2 linked regions of the Homo sapiens genome follow. The protein of the gene in region 2 purifies or fractionates together with the protein of the main gene of each other region. This does not show direct contact. Each region holds a gene or a part of one and is shown on either strand. Other genes may lie near its edges.

Region 1 (3,650 bases), on a different chromosome or scaffold from region 2:
AACTGGGTGGATATAGTGGGGTGGTTTACTAGGGTGGAGGAAAACGGTGGGGGGAAGGCAGGGTTTGGGAAGGTGTTGATGTGCTGTTGGGTTGGAGATGCTTTCTAATCATCTAAGGGAGGCCATCAGTAGAAAAGTTGGCGCTGATTGGAGAGGCTGGGCTGTACATTGCTTGCTAGGATACGGGACTGGAGTGTCCAAGCAGATCTGGTGGCCCTCAGCAGGGAGCAGGGAACTTCGGAGTTGCCTTGGCCACTCCTTTCATCTCCCCTCCTGCTCTCTCACCCCACCTCCCAGGTCTATACTCGCTATGGGAAGTGTTACACCTTCAACGCGGACCCGCGGAGCTCGCTGCCCAGCCGGGCAGGGGGCATGGGCAGTGGCCTGGAGATCATGCTGGACATCCAGCAGGAGGAGTACCTGCCCATCTGGAGGGAGACAAGTACGCAGGCCGGAAAGGGACAAGGGCCACCTTGGGGACTGGGGCCTGGGCCCTCTGCCTGGGATGGGTTTCCAAAGGTCCCCATCTCTGCTGTGCAGATGAGACGTCGTTTGAGGCAGGTATTCGGGTGCAGATCCACAGCCAGGAGGAGCCGCCCTACATCCACCAGCTGGGGTTCGGGGTGTCCCCAGGCTTCCAGACCTTTGTGTCCTGCCAGGAACAGCGGGTGAGCATCTCCTGCTAGGCCCTGGATTGGGCACAGGGCTCGCCTTTGGGCTCAGAGGGGATGTGGAGCAAACCTGCCCTCTAGAAGCTCAGAGCCTGCCAGCTGTGTTGACTTTGCTGGGGCTGTGGGCACTGGAGGACTGGGTGGGATTCCTGAGCATGACCTCATCATGCCCCACCTCTGCAGCTGACCTACCTGCCCCAGCCCTGGGGCAACTGCCGCGCAGAGAGTGAGCTCAGGGAGCCTGAGCTTCAGGGCTACTCGGCCTACAGTGTGTCTGCCTGCCGGCTGCGCTGTGAAAAGGAGGCCGTGCTTCAGCGCTGCCACTGCCGGATGGTGCACATGCCAGGTGGGCACCCCACCCCCAGCCAGCCCTCCATGCCACCCTGCTAGGCTCCAGAGCCTCCCGGGGCAAGGCACTGCTCATGTGCACAGGCAGGTGCATGTATACAACATGTGTATGTGTCTGTACCCGTGTGAGTGTGAGTGTTTGGGATTTTTAAACATGGTTTCACATATGCATGTGGGAATGCCGGCATGCAGATGCCTGTGTGCATGTTAATATGTATTTGTGTACGTGCATGCTCATTTATATCCGTGGTTGCGTATTTGTGGGGGTTGTGTGTGTGGTGTTCAAGCACATTTATGCAAATGTGTGCATATGTGTGTGCATGCATGTATGTGCTTACATTTGGGCGTGTGGGGGACAGGGGAAGTGATCGTAGATTCCAGGAATAATCTTCTCTCCTTTCAGGCAATGAGACCATCTGCCCACCAAATATCTACATCGAGTGTGCAGACCACACACTGGGTCCGTGCTGCCTACCCTTTCCTACCTCTCCATCAGCCTCTTCATGTCTCTGTCCACTCTTCTCCTCACTGTCTTGGATCCTCCCCTCCCAATCTCTTCCTGGAGGGTTCTTCCTGGGGGTTGAGCCTTAGCCCATACTTCAGTGGGGTTGGGGAGAGGTCTGCGGACCTCTGCAGGTACAGACACTTGGGTAAGTGGAGGCAGCAGGGTGGGGGGTTGCAGAGAAGCCAGGACTGGGAGTGAAGGTCTGGGCTTCTCATCTTGGTTCAGCCAATGAGCTCACCCACTTTGAGAAAGTGAAATGACTTCTCTCTTGGTCTCAGGAAAAATGCATTGCTGGCTATCGGTGTGGGTAAGGCAAACCCCATCTGTCCACAGATCTTGCCTGATCTGCAGTTCATCCATCTATCCATCCATTCATCGATTCGCGCATTCTCCAGACCTTTACAGCCTGTGCTGGGTACTGGAGGTGAGAGTGGGGGCGACAGCCCTGCCCTTGGAGAGCTTACACCCCGGCAGGGCTGTGGACAGCCATTCCCACACAGCCCGTCAACTCCTGGAGAGGGGAGCCTCGGGTGTGCTGCAAGGCCCCAAGGAGGGGTGTGCAGCCCTAGCCTGGGAAGGTAGGGAGGATTCCTAGAGGAAGGGACACATTAGCTGAGGCTTGATGGGTGTATAAGAGTCAGGTGCAAAGGGGGACATACACTGAAGACCTGTGGCCAGAAAGAGCATGCTGTGTCCGGGGCACTGAAAGGTCTGTGTGGCTGCAGGGCAGAGAACAGGGGAGGGAGTAGAAAGAGTAGAGGAGGGAGGCCAGGCACGGTGGCTCACAAGTGTAGACCCAGCACTTTGGGAGGCCAGGGTCTGTGGATCACTTGAGCCCAGTAGTTCAAGACCAGCCTGGGCAACATGGTGAGACCCTGTCTCTGCAAAAAATAAAAAAGTGAACTGGGTGTGGTGGTGCACATCTATAGTCCCACCTATTCGGGAGGCTGAGGCAAGAGGATAGGCTTGAGCCTGGGAGGTTGAGGCTGCGGTGAGCTGGGATCACACCATTGCACTCTAGTCTGAGCTACAGAGTTACCCTGTCTCAAAAAAAAAAAAAAAAAAAAAAAAAAAGAGGAGGGAGGCTCTAGGAAGCCAACAAAGGCCTGTGGCAAGGCAGGAATGCCAGGTGAGTCCAATGAGATAGGAGGGGAGGAGACTCAAAGCCAGGGACTGGCGAAGCTGGCTGCAGTAATCCAGACACCTGGGGCCTTGGGGCTGGGTTTGAGACACTGGGCAGCCACACACATCCAGCCCTTCTCTGTCCCCCACACCACCTGCATCTGTCACAGGGGTGATTGGAGATGTTTAGTGAAGGAACAGATATGTGATCAGGAGTAAGGTGCCTGCAAGGCACAGCGGTAGACCACAGAGCTAGCAACATGGGGAGCCTTCATTCCCACCAGGCCTGCAGGAGGAGAGAGAGACCTGTGGCTGTCCGAGAGGGCTGACTGACAGCAGCATGGCTGGAGGAGCACAGCCTCTGCCACCTACGGCCTGGCAGTGAGAAAGCCAGGCGGGAGAAATACCCTGGCATCTCTTCCCTCTCACCTTCTGTTTCTGCTGGGGCCTCCTGTTGGCCAAACTGAACCCAAAGCCAGAGGACAAGGGAGTTTAGTTGATGCATTTGGGGGAGATCAGCCTCATAGGGTGCAGAGCAAGGTTGAAGAGTGGAGAGTGGATCTGAAGGGGCAGGCAGAGAAAGCCCAGCACATTGATCCTGGGAAGCTTGTCGGTCTATTTGTTCTTCTGTTCGCCCATCCGTCGATCTGGCCATCTGCCATCCATCCATCCATCCATCCATCCATCCATCCATCCATCCATCCATGCATGCATCCCAGCATCCTCTCCACACCTCCTTGTGTGTCTGAGGCCTCACATAGTTGATTAGCTCTGGTGGATGGGCTGTGTTCTCCCTCTGGGCCACGAGGACCCCCCCCCAGTCCCAGGGGGTTGGGAGGGTGCTGGGGGGTTCTGCTTATATCTGCTCTCTGGAGCAGTCTGAAGCTGGTTCAGGCGGGGACCTGCAGCCAGTCCCCTCTAGGAAGCACTGGGGCTGGCCAGTAAAGGCCCTCAGTGTGGGTGTGCCTGCCTCAGGACGGCCCCTGGGCCTCCTCTCTGCAGCT
Region 2 (3,270 bases):
GAGGCACCGAGTTCCAGGTAGTGGTTTTGCCTTTCCCAAAAATGAAAATAAACTGTTACCGAAGGAATTAGTTTTTCCTCTTCTTTTTTCCAACTGTGAAGGTCCCCGTGGGGTGGAGCATGGTGCCCCTCACAAGCCGCAGCGGCTGGTGCCCGGGCTACCAGGGACATGCCAGAGGGCTCGATGACTTGTCTCTGCAGGGCGCTTTGGTGGTTGTTCAGCTGGCTAAAGGTTCACCGGTGAAGGCAGGTGCGGTAACTGCCGCACTGGACCCTAGGAAGCCCCAGGTATTCGCAATCTGACCTCCTCCTGTCTGTTTCCCTTCACGGATCAATTCTCACTTAAGAGGCCAATAAACAACCCAACATGAAAAGGTGACAAGCCTGGGTTTCTCCCAGGATAGGTGAAAGGGTTAAAATGAGTAAAGCAGTTGAGCAAACACCAACCCGAGCTTCGGGCGCAGAATTCTTCACCTTCTCTTCCCCTTTCCATCTCCTTTCCCCGCGGAAACAACGCTTCCCTTCTGGTGTGTCTGTTGATCTGTGTTTTCATTTACATCTCTCTTAGACTCCGCTCTTGTTCTCCAGGTTTTCACCAGATAGATTTGGGGTTGGCGGGACCTGCTGGTGACGTGCAGGTGAAGGACAGGAAGGGGCATGTGAGCGTAAATAGAGGTGACCAGAGGAGAGCATGAGGGGTGGGGCTTTGGGACCCACCGGGGCCAGTGGCTGGAGCTTGACGTCTTTCCTCCCCATGGGGGTGGGAGGGCCCCCAGCTGGAAGAGCAGACTCCCAGCTGCTACCCCCTCCCTTCCCATGGGAGTGGCTTTCCATTTTGGGCAGAATGCTGACTAGTAGACTAACATAAAAGATATAAAAGGCAATAACTATTGTTTGTGAGCAACTTTTTTATAACTTCCAAAACAAAAACCTGAGCACAGTTTTGAAGTTCTAGCCACTCGAGCTCATGCATGTGAAACGTGTGCTTTACGAAGGTGGCAGCTGACAGACGTGGGCTCTGCATGCCGCCAGCCTAGTAGAAAGTTCTCGTTCATTGGCAACAGCAGAACCTGCCTCTCCGTGAAGTCGTCAGCCTAAAATTTGTTTCTCTCTTGAAGAGGATTCTTTGAAAAGGTCCTGCAGAGAAATCAGTACAGGTTATCCCGAAAGGTACAAGGACGCACTTGTAAAGATGATTAAAACGTATCTTTCCTTTATGTGACGCGTCTCTAGTGCCTTACTGAAGAAGCAGTGACACTCCCGTCGCTCGGTGAGGACGTTCCCGGACAGTGCCTCACTCACCTGGGACTGGTATCCCCTCCCAGGGTCCACCAAGGGCTCCTGCTTTTCAGACACCCCATCATCCTCGCGCGTCCTCACCCTGTCTCTACCAGGGAGGTGCCTAGCTTGGTGAGGTTACTCCTGCTCCTCCAACCTTTTTTTGCCAAGGTTTGTACACGACTCCCATCTAGGCTGAAAACCTAGAAGTGGACCTTGTGTGTGTGCATGGTGTCAGCCCAAAGCCAGGCTGAGACAGTCCTCATATCCTCTTGAGCCAAACTGTTTGGGTCTCGTTGCTTCATGGTATGGTCTGGATTTGTGGGAATGGCTTTGCGTGAGAAAGGGGAGGAGAGTGGTTGCTGCCCTCAGCCGGCTTGAGGACAGAGCCTGTCCCTCTCATGACAACTCAGTGTTGAAGCCCAGTGTCCTCAGCTTCATGTCCAGTGGATGGCAGAAGTTCATGGGGTAGTGGCCTCTCAAAGGCTGGGCGCATCCCAAGACAGCCAGCAGGTTGTCTCTGGAAACGACCAGAGTTAAGCTCTCGGCTTCTCTGCTGAGGGTGCACCCTTTCCTCTAGATGGTAGTTGTCACGTTATCTTTGAAAACTCTTGGACTGCTCCTGAGGAGGCCCTCTTTTCCAGTAGGAAGTTAGATGGGGGTTCTCAGAAGTGGCTGATTGGAAGGGGACAAGCTTCGTTTCAGGGGTCTGCCGTTCCATCCTGGTTCAGAGAAGGCCGAGCGTGGCTTTCTCTAGCCTTGTCACTGTCTCCCTGCCTGTCAATCACCACCTTTCCTCCAGAGGAGGAAAATTATCTCCCCTGCAAAGCCCGGTTCTACACAGATTTCACAAATTGTGCTAAGAACCGTCCGTGTTCTCAGAAAGCCCAGTGTTTTTGCAAAGAATGAAAAGGGACCCCATATGTAGCAAAAATCAGGGCTGGGGGAGAGCCGGGTTCATTCCCTGTCCTCATTGGTCGTCCCTATGAATTGTACGTTTCAGAGAAATTTTTTTTCCTATGTGCAACACGAAGCTTCCAGAACCATAAAATATCCCGTCGATAAGGAAAGAAAATGTCGTTGTTGTTGTTTTTCTGGAAACTGCTTGAAATCTTGCTGTACTATAGAGCTCAGAAGGACACAGCCCGTCCTCCCCTGCCTGCCTGATTCCATGGCTGTTGTGCTGATTCCAATGCTTTCACGTTGGTTCCTGGCGTGGGAACTGCTCTCCTTTGCAGCCCCATTTCCCAAGCTCTGTTCAAGTTAAACTTATGTAAGCTTTCCGTGGCATGCGGGGCGCGCACCCACGTCCCCGCTGCGTAAGACTCTGTATTTGGATGCCAATCCACAGGCCTGAAGAAACTGCTTGTTGTGTATCAGTAATCATTAGTGGCAATGATGACATTCTGAAAAGCTGCAATACTTATACAATAAATTTTACAATTCTTTGGAATGAGGCTTTTTCACTTCTTTGGCCAAATGTAGCTCTTCTCACTTCCCACCCCTTTCTACAATAACCCCGGGTGCATTCAAGGGAGGCGAAGCGATCCCTCGGAGCTGCTGGGCAACCTTGAACAGTTCGTTCAAACTTTCTGTTTTATTAGTTCAGGCAGCATTCAGGGAGCCCAGTGAAAACACTAGCTCAGGCAGGTTCTGGTAAAGGGGGTGGTCGTTGTTAAACAATTTTGCAAAACACTGCATACTTTTCCTCCGTCGGGAAATCATTATTCACCATAGCATGACGAAAGCTCTGATAAGGTCTGCAAGGAAAAAAGAAACTGTCTTAGGTAGGGTTCTTCCAGAAGTAACCCCAAGACGTGGCCTTGTGTGTAAGGGATTAGGACGTTTTAAGGATGTGCTCCCAGGGGGCTTCCGCTAAGGGAGTCAGGGAAGAGGATCAAGGAGGGGGAGAACCTGAGCAAGGGAGACACTTGTGGACAGAGTTCCAGCCTCAGCTTGATCCCAAGAGGACCTGTGGGGGCTCTGGACCCTG

What was found.
Region 1: the proteins of PMEPA1 (region 2) and ASIC4 purify together in Homo sapiens (co-immunoprecipitation; one large-scale study listed by IntAct). This does not show direct contact.

Annotation. Positions count from the first base shown.
Region 1 is NC_000002.12:219,531,461-219,535,110, forward strand, and holds part of ASIC4 (acid-sensing ion channel 4), read left to right. Parts: intron 1-297; coding exon 298-442; intron 443-540; coding exon 541-668; coding exon of another isoform or gene 669-686; exon of another isoform or gene 687-854; coding exon 855-1,017; exon of another isoform or gene 1,018-1,422; coding exon 1,423-1,479; exon of another isoform or gene 1,480-1,802; coding exon of another isoform or gene 1,803-2,119; exon of another isoform or gene 2,120-3,650. UniProt on the Homo sapiens protein: Does not exhibit measurable stand-alone pH-gated sodium channel activity but may form pH-gated heterotrimeric sodium channels. Its activity could also depend on alternative gating mechanisms.
Region 2 is NC_000020.11:57,647,856-57,651,125, reverse strand, and holds the end of PMEPA1 (protein TMEPAI), read left to right. Parts: 3' UTR 1-2,730; downstream 2,731-3,270. UniProt on the Homo sapiens protein: Functions as a negative regulator of TGF-beta signaling and thereby probably plays a role in cell proliferation, differentiation, apoptosis, motility, extracellular matrix production and immunosuppression.